Homo sapiens: one gene and its partners. The protein of the gene in region 1 purifies or fractionates together with the protein of each later gene. This does not show direct contact. Each region holds a gene or a part of one and is shown on either strand. Other genes may lie near its edges. The genes, in order: INPP5K, GART and USP47.

Evidence for each region.
Region 2: the proteins of INPP5K (region 1) and GART purify together in Homo sapiens (co-immunoprecipitation; 4 studies listed by BioGRID and IntAct, with this or other methods). This does not show direct contact.
Region 3: the proteins of INPP5K (region 1) and USP47 purify together in Homo sapiens (co-immunoprecipitation; 3 studies listed by BioGRID and IntAct, with this or other methods). This does not show direct contact.

The regions. Positions count from the first base shown.
Region 1 is NC_000017.11:1,509,877-1,513,624, reverse strand, and holds part of INPP5K (inositol polyphosphate 5-phosphatase K), read left to right. Parts: intron 1-63; coding exon 64-172; intron 173-3,748. UniProt on the Homo sapiens protein: Inositol 5-phosphatase which acts on inositol 1,4,5-trisphosphate, inositol 1,3,4,5-tetrakisphosphate, phosphatidylinositol 4,5-bisphosphate and phosphatidylinositol 3,4,5-trisphosphate.
Region 2 is NC_000021.9:33,540,482-33,544,229, reverse strand, and holds the start of GART (trifunctional purine biosynthetic protein adenosine-3), read left to right. Parts: upstream 1-2,112; 5' UTR 2,113-2,165; intron 2,166-3,748. Other genes in the region: protein SON, read right to left, coding at 1,061-1,137. UniProt on the Homo sapiens protein: Trifunctional enzyme that catalyzes three distinct reactions as part of the 'de novo' inosine monophosphate biosynthetic pathway.
Region 3 is NC_000011.10:11,839,967-11,843,714, forward strand, and holds the start of USP47 (ubiquitin carboxyl-terminal hydrolase 47), read left to right. Parts: upstream 1-2,005; 5' UTR 2,006-2,219; coding exon 2,220-2,258; intron 2,259-3,748. UniProt on the Homo sapiens protein: Ubiquitin-specific protease that specifically deubiquitinates monoubiquitinated DNA polymerase beta (POLB), stabilizing POLB thereby playing a role in base-excision repair (BER). Acts as a regulator of cell growth and genome integrity.

The DNA of each region.
Region 1 (3,748 bases):
ATATCTGTGGCAGGGGAAGTAGCCTGGAGGCCAGGGGCCAAGCCTCTGAGCTGGCATGGTCAGTTTGCAGGAATTGAACTCTGGGATCATAAGCCTCCTTTCCGATGCTGCCTTTAATGACTCGTGGAGCAGTTTCCTCATGGATGTGCTTTCCCCTCTGAGCTTCATCAAGGTAACTTGCCAGTTCATTGGCACTTGACAACTGTGTTTTCACATCTCCACTGACCCCTGCTTGTTGGGTCTGATGTGTTCCTCTTACTCCTGCTCAGCCTTTCATGCTGTTTCCCATTTGTTTAAAGGGCTAAACCTCCCTTCCACCTGGACCCCGGGGCCCCTGCCTGCCTTCGCCTTTCTGAGGGAGCTGGAGTCTCCAGGGGTTGGGTTAACACCTGGATATGTTTCAGCTTGGGAAGATTCTGAGGGGAGGTGCAGCAGGGCTTGTCATCACCTCAGTGCTGGCCGCTGCCCCAGCCACCAGTCTCTACTCAAATGCCCATCCTGAAGTCTCTGAGTGTAATCATACGGCTGTCATTTATCAAGTGCTTACTTGTTGTTACACATCATAAGTAGCTCTTTATAGTATATATGTTATTTTAAAATCTTAACAAGTCTGTTGAAATAGAGATATTTTACAGAGAAAACCATGGCTCAGAAGCCACATGCGCTATCTGGGATTTGGATCCAGATCTCTCAAACTTCATAACCCAAGTTCTTAACTACTAATACCTTATTGCTATGCTGGTGAACTCTAAGACTGACAGATCTTAGGCGTGGCTAGCCTGCTGGTGTCATAGGGTATCCTCAGGTCATACGGGACGTGCACTTCAGATTCTGGGGGTCCAGAGGTTAGGAGAGGGGAGTCAGGTGTGGTGGGTACTTTGGGCGGCTTTCTTAGTCTGAGAGACCAGTATACTCTGGGGTGTCTTTAGACAGTAGGAGAGTCCACAGGAAGGCCCTGGGTTGCCAGATCTTCACCTTCACCTTGGTTCTGCCCTGCACACCTGAGGAATGAAACACACTCCCATTCACAGCACCTGGTATACAGCTGCTTAGAAATACCAGAATTCCCTCTTTCCCCTTCCTGGATGACTCTTGTTCTTCAGAATGGATTCTGTCAGCCTAGTTTGCCTGGGGGTACTGAGGCAAGAGCTGTGTGTCCTTTGGAGGGGGAGCAGAATGGGGAGGAAAGAATCTAAGGTTTAGAACTCCTGCTGAGGATAGAAAACACCAGCCCGAGTCCTTGGTTCCCTCCACATCAAACCCAGAGGCCTCCTTCTGTAGATAGGGAGCTAGATCCTTACAGAGGACACAACCACTTCTCTCTCACCCGCCACTCCCTTCCCAAGACTGCAGGCCTCCTTGCTTCTCGGCTGACTGGCAAAGGATTGGTAGGATGGAATTGAGCCAAGGAAATTAGCTCAACTTGTGGCAGAGACACAGCCCTTTCTACCCATGTGGCCTACTGAGATTGGGAGGCCAGACTGAGGGCCTGGCACCCAAAATGAATGCCCTTCTTTCCCCAGCCAAGAATCAGGGTGGATGGGTGAGCTCCGTGCATTTGCCAGCTATAGACTGAGAAGGGCTGACCCCCTTCCACTGCTCCAGGGCCCCCAGCCACCTCCTGCTAGTCCTTTCTTCGCTCCTCCTACTTCATTTCCTCCAACTAGAACTTTCCCTAGAACTCTCCTGCTTTTCCCACAGCCCCACCCTTTCTCCCAGTCTAACTCTGTCCTGCCCCGACCCCACCCTCCCCGCCCCCACTTCCCTGCTGCTCCTTCACAAAGCGAGCCAGTGTCTTTGTGGTGGAACCCAGTGGCCTAAAGCTGCTTTGTGGGTGGGGATTAAGCCTGAAACTTTTCCTGAGTCTTTATCAGTCCCCTTGCTTCAATCCTGACCCTGGGAGTCAGCCCCTCATGGTCCAGCCCGTCCTCCATCCCTGTTGGCACGTGTGCTTGGGTGTAGGAGAGAGAAGACTGGGGAGGAAGTAGGCTTGAGGACACACCTGTAGCAACCTCTGGCCCACCTGAAGTTCTGATGCCTCCCTTACCCAGTGCTGGGTTTGAGGTTCCCCCTGCTTCGACTCCGCTATGCCAGGGCTCGTGGCCTGCAGGATCAAGTTTCATAATTCCTGGAAGGCCCCAGTACACGCTCCCCACCCGGGGATTTCCTCCTTGGCCTCCACACTTCATTCTCCGGAAACGGCTCCTCGGGTGCCGGTGGTAGACAGCCTGAACCTGAGAGGGAGAGCTACTGGCTGCGGCCCATTCCCACCCCACCTTTTGCAGCTGCAGATAGTAGGGATCTTGGCAGTCCTAGCCCTTTGATGTTGTTTTACAATACAGGTAGCCCTACTGGTTCCTTAGCCTCCCTAAATCTTAGTTCCTCAACTACAAAACAGGGACGGTGATTCCTTACAGGCTTGGCAGGAGTAAATGAGAGAGGAGGCACTTGAGCAGATGTTAGCTATTCTCCCTAGCCTGTGCACATGTGTCCTTACCCACTGGCATTCCATGGGCGTTGCCTTCATGGACACCCAGCTGCACGCAGTATATAGTTATGGGGTTTGGGGGGAGCATTTTCTTATTTTTTTTTCACTGAGCTATAATGTACACAGAAAAGCATGCAGAAATTCAGTGTACACTTTGATGGGTTTTTGCATATACCCATGTTACCATCAGCCACATCTAGATAAAGAGCAGGCCGAGTACAGTGGCTCATGCCTGTAATCCCAGCACTTTGGGATTATAGAGGCAGGGAGATTGCTTGAACCCAGGAGTTCAAGACCACCCTGGGCAATATGGCAAGACCCTGTCTCTACAAAACAAACAAAAATAGCCGGGCATGTTGGTGCACACCTGTGGTCCTAGCTACTCAGGAGGCTGAGGTGGGAGGATTGCCTGAGCCCAGGATGTCAAGGCTGCAGCGAGCCGTGATTGCACCACTGCACTCCAGCCTGGTAGACAGAGCGAAATCCTGTCTCTAAGTAAAAAGGGAGGAATGGGGGCAGCTGGTGGATAAAGAACATTTCCAAGGAGAGAGGGAGGAAGGGAAGGGGATAAAGAAGAGCATTTCCCAGTATCCTGGAAACCTCTTATGTTCCTTCCTTTTAAGAATGCTTGGCCGGGCGCGGTGGCTCACGCCTACAATCCCAGCACTTTGAGAGGCCAAGGCAGGCAGATCACCTGAGGTCGAGAGTTCAAGACCAGCCTGGCCAACACGGTGAAACCCCATCTCTACTAAAAATACAAGACCTGGTGGTGGGCGCCTGTAATCCCAGCTACTTGGGAAGCTGAGACAGGAGAATCACCTGAACCCAGGAGGTGGAGGTTGCAGTGAGCCGAGACCACGCCATTGCACTCCAGCCTGGGCGACAGAGCGAGACTCCGTCTCAAAAAAAAAAGAATGCTGAAACCAAAAAATAATAGCTTTCAGATAATCCCCACAGCATCTATGAGATGGATTCCTACTTTATCAATGAGAAAATACACTGAGAAACTGCCTCAATGTCAAATACTAAGAATCAGAGCCAGGGTTTGAACCCAGATCTAACTTCAAAGCCAGTATCCTTAGCTTATCTTCTCTTCCCGCCACCCGCACGCCTAGGCGCAGAATCGAAAACCTCAGCCCCCAGAATGTATCATTTGGCAGCTGAGAAGAAGAATGGAAAGGCTTGAAACTCTGAGATTCAAACTGGGATATCGTAGACCCTGGAGCAGGACACTGCATGTAGCTGAGGGCTCTCTAGAGT
Region 2 (3,748 bases), on another chromosome or scaffold:
TAATACATCATTGCCCTAATAATCCTGTATTACTTTGGGCACTTACAACTGGTTTTCGGCCCATTTTCAAATTCACGTACTGCTCTTGCTCTCAACTTTTAAAATACAATTAAAAACACTTGAACTCGGAACACTTACGTTTCAAGATCTCTTTCCTACTTCTGTACTTTAAAGAAATGAGTATCTTATACAAAAGCAAATATCGAGAGACAACCGCTGAACATGACACACTATTTTCCTAAGTAAACAACCATTTCTTTAACAATCTCTTCGCCTTCAAATTTTGTGAAGCCAAGCGCAAATTATGTAAAGTCTACCAGCAATGACAAAAATAGCGTGTCAACTGGGGCAGGGGTAGCAAGAAAATAATAGACCTACACACAAAGTCCACTTTCACTTGCTGTAATTAATCGCAACCATTTCAAAGTCCCCTTCCATCTTTATCTCGAGTATTTTAACAAACTAGCAAGTGCATCAGTTTGAGTTCGTTTTAATTGAAACATTTAACTATCAGAACGGCTGACAGATACTACAGGACACTAGGCCCCGAATAATCTTATTAATAGATCCAGACCCCCAAGCGGTCTGAAGCTCGCAATAATAAAGAGGATTTAAGATTAACCAAGAAACGGCCGTTAGAGACCCTTTCCGGTCATAGGCACCGGCCGGCAAAATCCGCGGAGGCGAGAGGGGGAGGGGATACGCGGCGGCGGAGGAGGAGCTGAGGAAGGAACTAGGCCCGTCCCTGGCGGACAACCGGGCCTACGAGTAGCTAAACGGCAGGGGGGACCCAAACAGGGGAGAAGGGTGAACATCTTAACTCGGTTCTGAAACAGGGAGTCTTGGGTTACCTCGGAAAAGGCGAAGTTCCTCGAGGGAAAAGGAAGGGAGCGGCTGGGGGGGCGGTTGGGGGGGGCCCGGAAAATGGATCCCAGGCCCAGGCGGGGCCCTAGCGGGGCCTGAGCCGGGGAACGACTGCGTCTCCGAAGAAAGGTGCCAAAGAAGGCTAGGTGAGGGCCTAACGGTCCGTTGGGAGCAGAAGAATCTGGGAGGCGTTTACCTGGAAAGCTCCTGTTGAATTTCCCGGAATTTACTGACCACGAAAGACCTAAAAATCTGCTCGATGTTGGTCGCCATGGCGTCCGCTCCGTTCTCTCAACTCCTCCTCGCTAGTCCTCCAGGCTCCCAGCATGCCTCGGGAGGAGGCGCACGGGCCAATTCGGTCTCTCGCCTTCCTGATTGGCTCCAAAGGGAATGCCCGGTCCGGCCCGCTCCACCGAGGGACCAATCAGTGAGCACGGCCCTGCTCTCCTCTGCTGTTTCTGAGCGGCTGGGGTAGAGGTGCTGACGTTTGCGCCGCGCACGACTATGTCCGCCATGTTAGTGTCTGACGCAGGCGCCATTACAGGAGCCGTCTCTCTTGAGGCGACCGTGTCCGCATAAGTTGTCAGTCCCCAGCAGTGTTTGGGAGCCTTAACAGGCTTGCTAAGTGCCTGAGATTAAAGGCGAAGAGGAAGAAGAGCAAGAAGGGCAACCCGGTGTTTAACACACGGCTTTCAGGCGCTCTCAGGTGGCGCCAAGTTCAGTTTCGACAGGGATATGCATCCGGGAGAGAATTTTTCAGCCCCCGCCCCCACTGGCATGTGAGAGGAGGAACTCGCTGTTGCCCTGTGTCTTCCCCAGTGCGTTCTATAACCAGCCTCATTTTTTTTTTTAGCAATAGGCCGGATGTCCTAAGCGACCGGCATTCAAAGCCCGGTGCATTTTAGTCTCATCAGGAGTCAGGCGTGTCACGAGATTTTTCCGCGGTAGCTGCTCAGCTCTGACTCGTGAGCGGCGCACAATTGGCTAAGAATGGGTTTAGCATTTTGGCGCTCCCCCCCGGCGCTCCTGGAAACACTGCGTGGCACCCCGTACCACTGTCACATTATAAACGTGCTAAGGCTTGGGTGTCTCGGCTGGGGAGCAGTCAGGCAGCGCCCAGGGCGGGAGGGAATCAGACTAGATTCTCGCCGCGGAGACCCAGGGCCGCGCGGACCAATGGGGCAGGGAAGCCGTCGTAGGGCGGGGCAGTGAGGGGCGGTGCCGCGCTGGTCCCGCGCCGGTCCCGGTGGGCCGACTTCCGGCGAGCGGGCAAGCGGGAACCAGGTGGCCACCCGGTGTCGGTGCGTAAACCCCCTCCGCTTTTACACGGAGCGCGCTTAGGCTTTGGTTTGGGGATTTAAGATCGCGAACTGAGTGAAACCATAGAAACTGATTTGTAGAAATTTTCCTGTTGTTTGTAAATGCGGTGGGTGGGGGTTGGCCATGTGCTTTTCACTTGCTACTGTTAGCTGGTTTCTATTTGCTCTTTTACTTTTCCTGTTTTCTAAGATGTCAAGGCCTTTTTGTGTCTTTATACATTTTTAGGACATAACCCTAAATTGGTGTACTTTCTCTTTATGCACCCGTTGTCTCTGGCAGATTACTTGGTTAATTTTGTAGTTGGTTTCTACTTTATTCTCCATATCCTCTGATACGGCTTTATTTGCCTGTCTTATTCTGCTTATGTTACCCATTCTGAGGAATGAGGCCCAAGGTTAGTGAAGTCCCCCAAGGTCTTCCTGCTAGTATGGGGCAGCGTCTCTACCCAGGCCAAGGCGCTGTGTGAGACTCAGGAGCCCAGGCGTCCTCACCACTGGGTAGTAAGGCTATTTTCAGTGATCCACTAGAGTAAACAGAATTTTCCCACACTACTGCTATATTCAAACTAAAGATGTAACATTTGCTCTAGATTTAAAGATCTGTTTATTTCTGGCCGGATGTGATGTAATCCCAGCACTTGGGAGGCCAAGGTGGGTTGACCATTGGAGGTCAGGAGTTCGAGACCAGCCTGGCCAACGTAGTGAAACCCCGTCGCTACTAAAAATACAAAAATTCGCCTGGCGTGGCGGCGCACGCCCGTAATCCCAGCTACTTGGGAGGCTGTGAGGCAAGAGAATCGCTTGAACCCGGGAGGCGGAGGTTGTAGTGAGCTGAGATCACACCACTGCCCTCCAGCCTGGGCGACAGAGAGAGACTGTCTAAACAAATAAATAAATAAATAAAATAAAAAATCTGTTTATTTCAGATACACATGGCAAGTAAAATGTGTTTTCCCGTTACACTAAAGTAGCTGTTCCTTCCGAGACTGTAATTTAACAGGGTTTTTTTTTTTCCTTTCTCAAATTTTCAATGATCATCGTTTCACTTGTTGAGAGAATCTGAAGCAAAATTGCTTCTGTTAGGCTCCACCCCCTCTTACCTGTGTGACCTCCAGCAAGTTATTTACCTATCTGGGCCTCCTTGTCTTATCTGCAAATTGGTGATAGTAATAGTATCTCCCTCATAGGATTCTTTCATGACAAGCATTTTAAATAGTACCCTGCCCAAGGTTAAGTGCTCAAAAAAATGTTAGTTTTGTATATTGTCAGCTTACATTTTTCTTAAAATATGTAATCCCAACATCATCAAAATAAGTTTTCAATTTTCTTTTTCCTGTTACCAGTTTGTCTTGTGGTAAGTAAATGTAACAAGTTAACATTTACTACTGCTGAGTGCCAGATTGTACTTATTTATAAATGTCATTTCAGTTAATCTCCTAGGTTACACTGCTGTTGTATCCATCCTTCTAAGTCTCAGGTGCCAGAACTAAAGTGAAATGAGTTGGAATTTGATTTTTGCCTTCTCTACCAATATTCTAGCATATTGCGCTATTTGAATTAGGAGT
Region 3 (3,748 bases), on another chromosome or scaffold:
CACTGGCCAGCACTACAGAAGACACCTTACTAAGTCATGGGATGACATTTTGAAAATAAAAGTTTGGAAATATTTCCATCATGTGATTTTGATGCAAAAATGATATATGTGAGCCACCCAAGTCTGGGACTATGGTGAAGCAAATGGTTTTCAAGGTGAAAACCGTTCACCTTGGGCACAAAATTTAAGGGGGGGGTGCCAAAAATTCAATAATCAAGACAACTAATCTTAATACAATATTTTAAAAAGTCAAAATTTATCTTAATCAATCCATGATAATCAAAATATCAAAACCTTAAAGACAAGATCTATAACTCCCAAAACTCATACATGAATACTTAAAACTTGAAGATAGAAATTTTCAACTTCTTAAAAATCTTCTAAGCAATTTATTCCAAAGAGCTTTGAACCCATTTGTAAAAATATAAAAATGCAACATCTTCTGGTTGACATCAGGAAAGATGGAACACTACTAGCTGAATTTCAATAAAAACCTTTGCATGGTTGTTGGATGGAATGGATAAAAATGAAACTTTTTTCATATCAGTTTTTTTTTTTAAATCGTTCTAAACATGCATTAGGAAGAGTGGCCAAAGATGTACTTCCTCCTTTAGGATCTACATCTTTGTGAGTTACCTTTTTTTCAGCTTATGACAGCCATTAAAACCAAGTACAAAAATAACCTGACGTTCAATCAGATATTTTAATAACTATTTCACGAAGTATTAAAGATTTTTAAAACTAACGAAACCTAGTCAATCATATTGATTTCCTTAAATATTTTTAGTGAGAATAACAAAGATTTTTATACCATTAATATGGAAAATAACTAAGTTATTTTAAATGTTTATGTCATCTTTGTCTTAGCCTTTTTACATTTTACAAATGTTTTATAATTCTGCACACAGCAGGACACGTATAAAACTTATATAAGTATATGGATTTTTTTTTGGTAACGGGATTACAATAAAAAAAAGTTTGGAGAACACAAGTGCAGGCAGTTAATGCTGTGGGTGTTAGGAACATGACAAGATTATATTATCTCAGCATGCTGTAAGATCACTGTATCCATAAAAGTCTTCATGAAGGAGCCCCGCCGAGTCTCCATAATGGAAGCAGGATTTGGAGAAATGACTTCTGCAAACTTTGTTTAGTATAACACAAAGCACCATGCTTACTACTAGAGAAGATTAAAATTCTCTAAAAACCTTGTTAACGGAGATCACAGGTTGAAGCATACTGCAGCTCTACTCTTGGAAGGCTAGCTCAGTCTCAGACTTGGCCCTGATGGAGAAGGAAGTTCCCTGGAAGAGGGCAGGGGAGCGCCTCTCCAATGTAGTTGCGGGGGGCGGGCGGTGAGGACACCGCTTCATAAGGGAAGGGGTGGCTGCCTCCCCAAGCAGGGGGTGGCCCCTGAGGTCCCTCCAGCTGGGGGCCCTTGAGAGGGAGGGTGGGGAGAGGGGAAAAGAACGTCAGGAGAGTGAACGGGAGCAAATAAAACGCTGTCCATTCTGACTGGAAGGGCCAGAGCCGTGTCTAAGGGCGGGGGCCGGGAGGTGGCCCGCGGTGGTGTCTCTACCAGGACGAGGCCTGGGGTATCTGAAGAGGGGATGACGTCCAGGCGCTTTGCTAAAGGGAAGCCAGAAGGGTATGAGTTGCTAGGGTCAGAGATGGGGCTTTCGGCTCGAGTCTTTCCCTGCAGGGCAGAGAGTCCGAAGAGCCCGAGAAGGCAGGGAGGACAGTGGGCCTGGTCCTTCCCCGGCCGGCAGAGGGAGTCCCGAGATGGAACGTCCAGCTCTCCTCTAACGAAAAGCGTTTGCATGGCTGTCTCGCCAATTCTGTACCTCCCGGGGCTGAGGAAGAGCCGAGGTGACTAGAAGCTAGCGACAAGTGCCGGCCACCTCCGACGCCAGGCGCCGGGCTTGGAGCCCGACGGGCCGAATTCTCGCGAGAGCGGCCGCCGCCATTTTTCCATTGATTGCAGCGGGCTGGGGGAGGGGCCGACGACGAAGGCGGCTGTGGTAGCGGCGGCGGCGGCGGCGGAGCCCTGGGTCGGTGTCTGCGCGCTGGTGTCTGAGGCCCAGGCTGAGGCCTCCGCTATTGCTGGAGCGCAGGCGGCGGAGAGGATGACTGCCGCTGCCATTCTCTCTTGAGCTAGCGAGCCGCCGCCACCCTCCACCCTCCCCCGGCAGGGCGGAGAGGAGCGGCCGGAGTCAGCGATGGTGCCCGGCGAGGAGAACCAACTGGTCCCGAAAGAGGTGAGGGGCCCCAGAGGAGGTTAGGCCTTAGGCCTGCGGCCGCTCGAGGCAACACAGGCCCGGGCCGGGGTTCGGCTGCGGGCCCGGCCGGGGTGCAGGCTCGGCTGTGGGGGAATGAGGAGGCGTGAGGCAGTCGGGGGTGGACGGTGGGTGCGGCGAGCAGTTGGGAGACCCGCTGGCTCTAGGGGCCGGGGAGCGGACCTCCCGCCTCGGGTTTTATGGGGCTGGACGAATAAAGGAGCGGACGGGAAAGAATCAGGTTCTGCTCTAGGGGAGAAGGTGGCCTTTTAAGTTCTTGTTTAACGTGTGGAGCCGGGAGAGATCATTTCAAAGAAAACATTCTGGAACAGTTGCCTATGGGCACGGCAGGGTGACGGTGCTGCTTCTGGGTTTGACAGTGGCAGCGTATAGCTTTCAGCGCTTGTGAAATCTACACCCAAGTGAGATCTGTGGGAGGGCAGACTTAACTGTTACGACTTTTTTCAACTCCTGTTACTTGGTAGTACTATTGGCCTGCCTAAATGGGGCCTACCGAAGATCGTGGAAAAGTAGTACATGGGACATTAATGTAAAGGAAGGAGATAGGAGAACATTACCACATGGAGAGCTGAACTCTTTTTTTTTTTTTTTTTTTTTGAGGTTGGGTTGTGTATGCCAATTTGAGTGACTTCTTAAATTCTTAAAAGCAAGTGATACGAGAAGCCTTGACTACTTGGCTTCTCTTGAATAGTAGTAGAAGATTTAGGGTAGAATCCAGCACTGGCCAGCGAATTTCAACGTATTAATAGTATCTCTGTTGGCTTTATAAATATCTTCGGCGTATTCAAATGTGTATTTTTAACTGGCTGATCATCAGGCTAATGCTTTGGATTTTTATTTCTCATATACCTTAAATAGAGACAAGTGTTGGATTGAAATTAACTGTGTGCGATCTTGAAATTAATGAGTGATCATTACAGATTCTTAAATTTTTTTGTGCCTGTTTTACTTGTTTTGTAGCAATTCTTTGTTACTTAAGCAAGCTCTGACAGTATGCAAGGGTGATATTATTGGAGTTATGTACCTGTATGATACAAGTATTTTCCCAGCTTTGTCAGAAGGGCAGTGATAGTTGTTTTGCAAGGACGATTTTTGTAAAAGGCAGAGAGTTATGTGTCAGTATTTGTTCATCAAGCGTCACCAACTCTGTGCAAAGCAGATAAACAGATGAGTTAATCAGAATTCTTGCCTTGGGAACTTTCTGAGCTACTAAGAAAGGGAACACTAGTGTTTGTTGAACTCCAATTAGGGACTAGGTACTTTACCACGTAAGTAATTCTTATGCAAGGAAGGAAGTGATAGGTGCTGTAAGAAAGGTATAAATGTGTATTTCATTTTAGAGCTTCATATTGCTGGTTTTCATTTTTATAAAAAACAAAATTCTTTCTTAATTTTTTGACCATTAGAAAAATATCATATAGGTGGAACTCTGCTTTAAGAAAACCCAACAT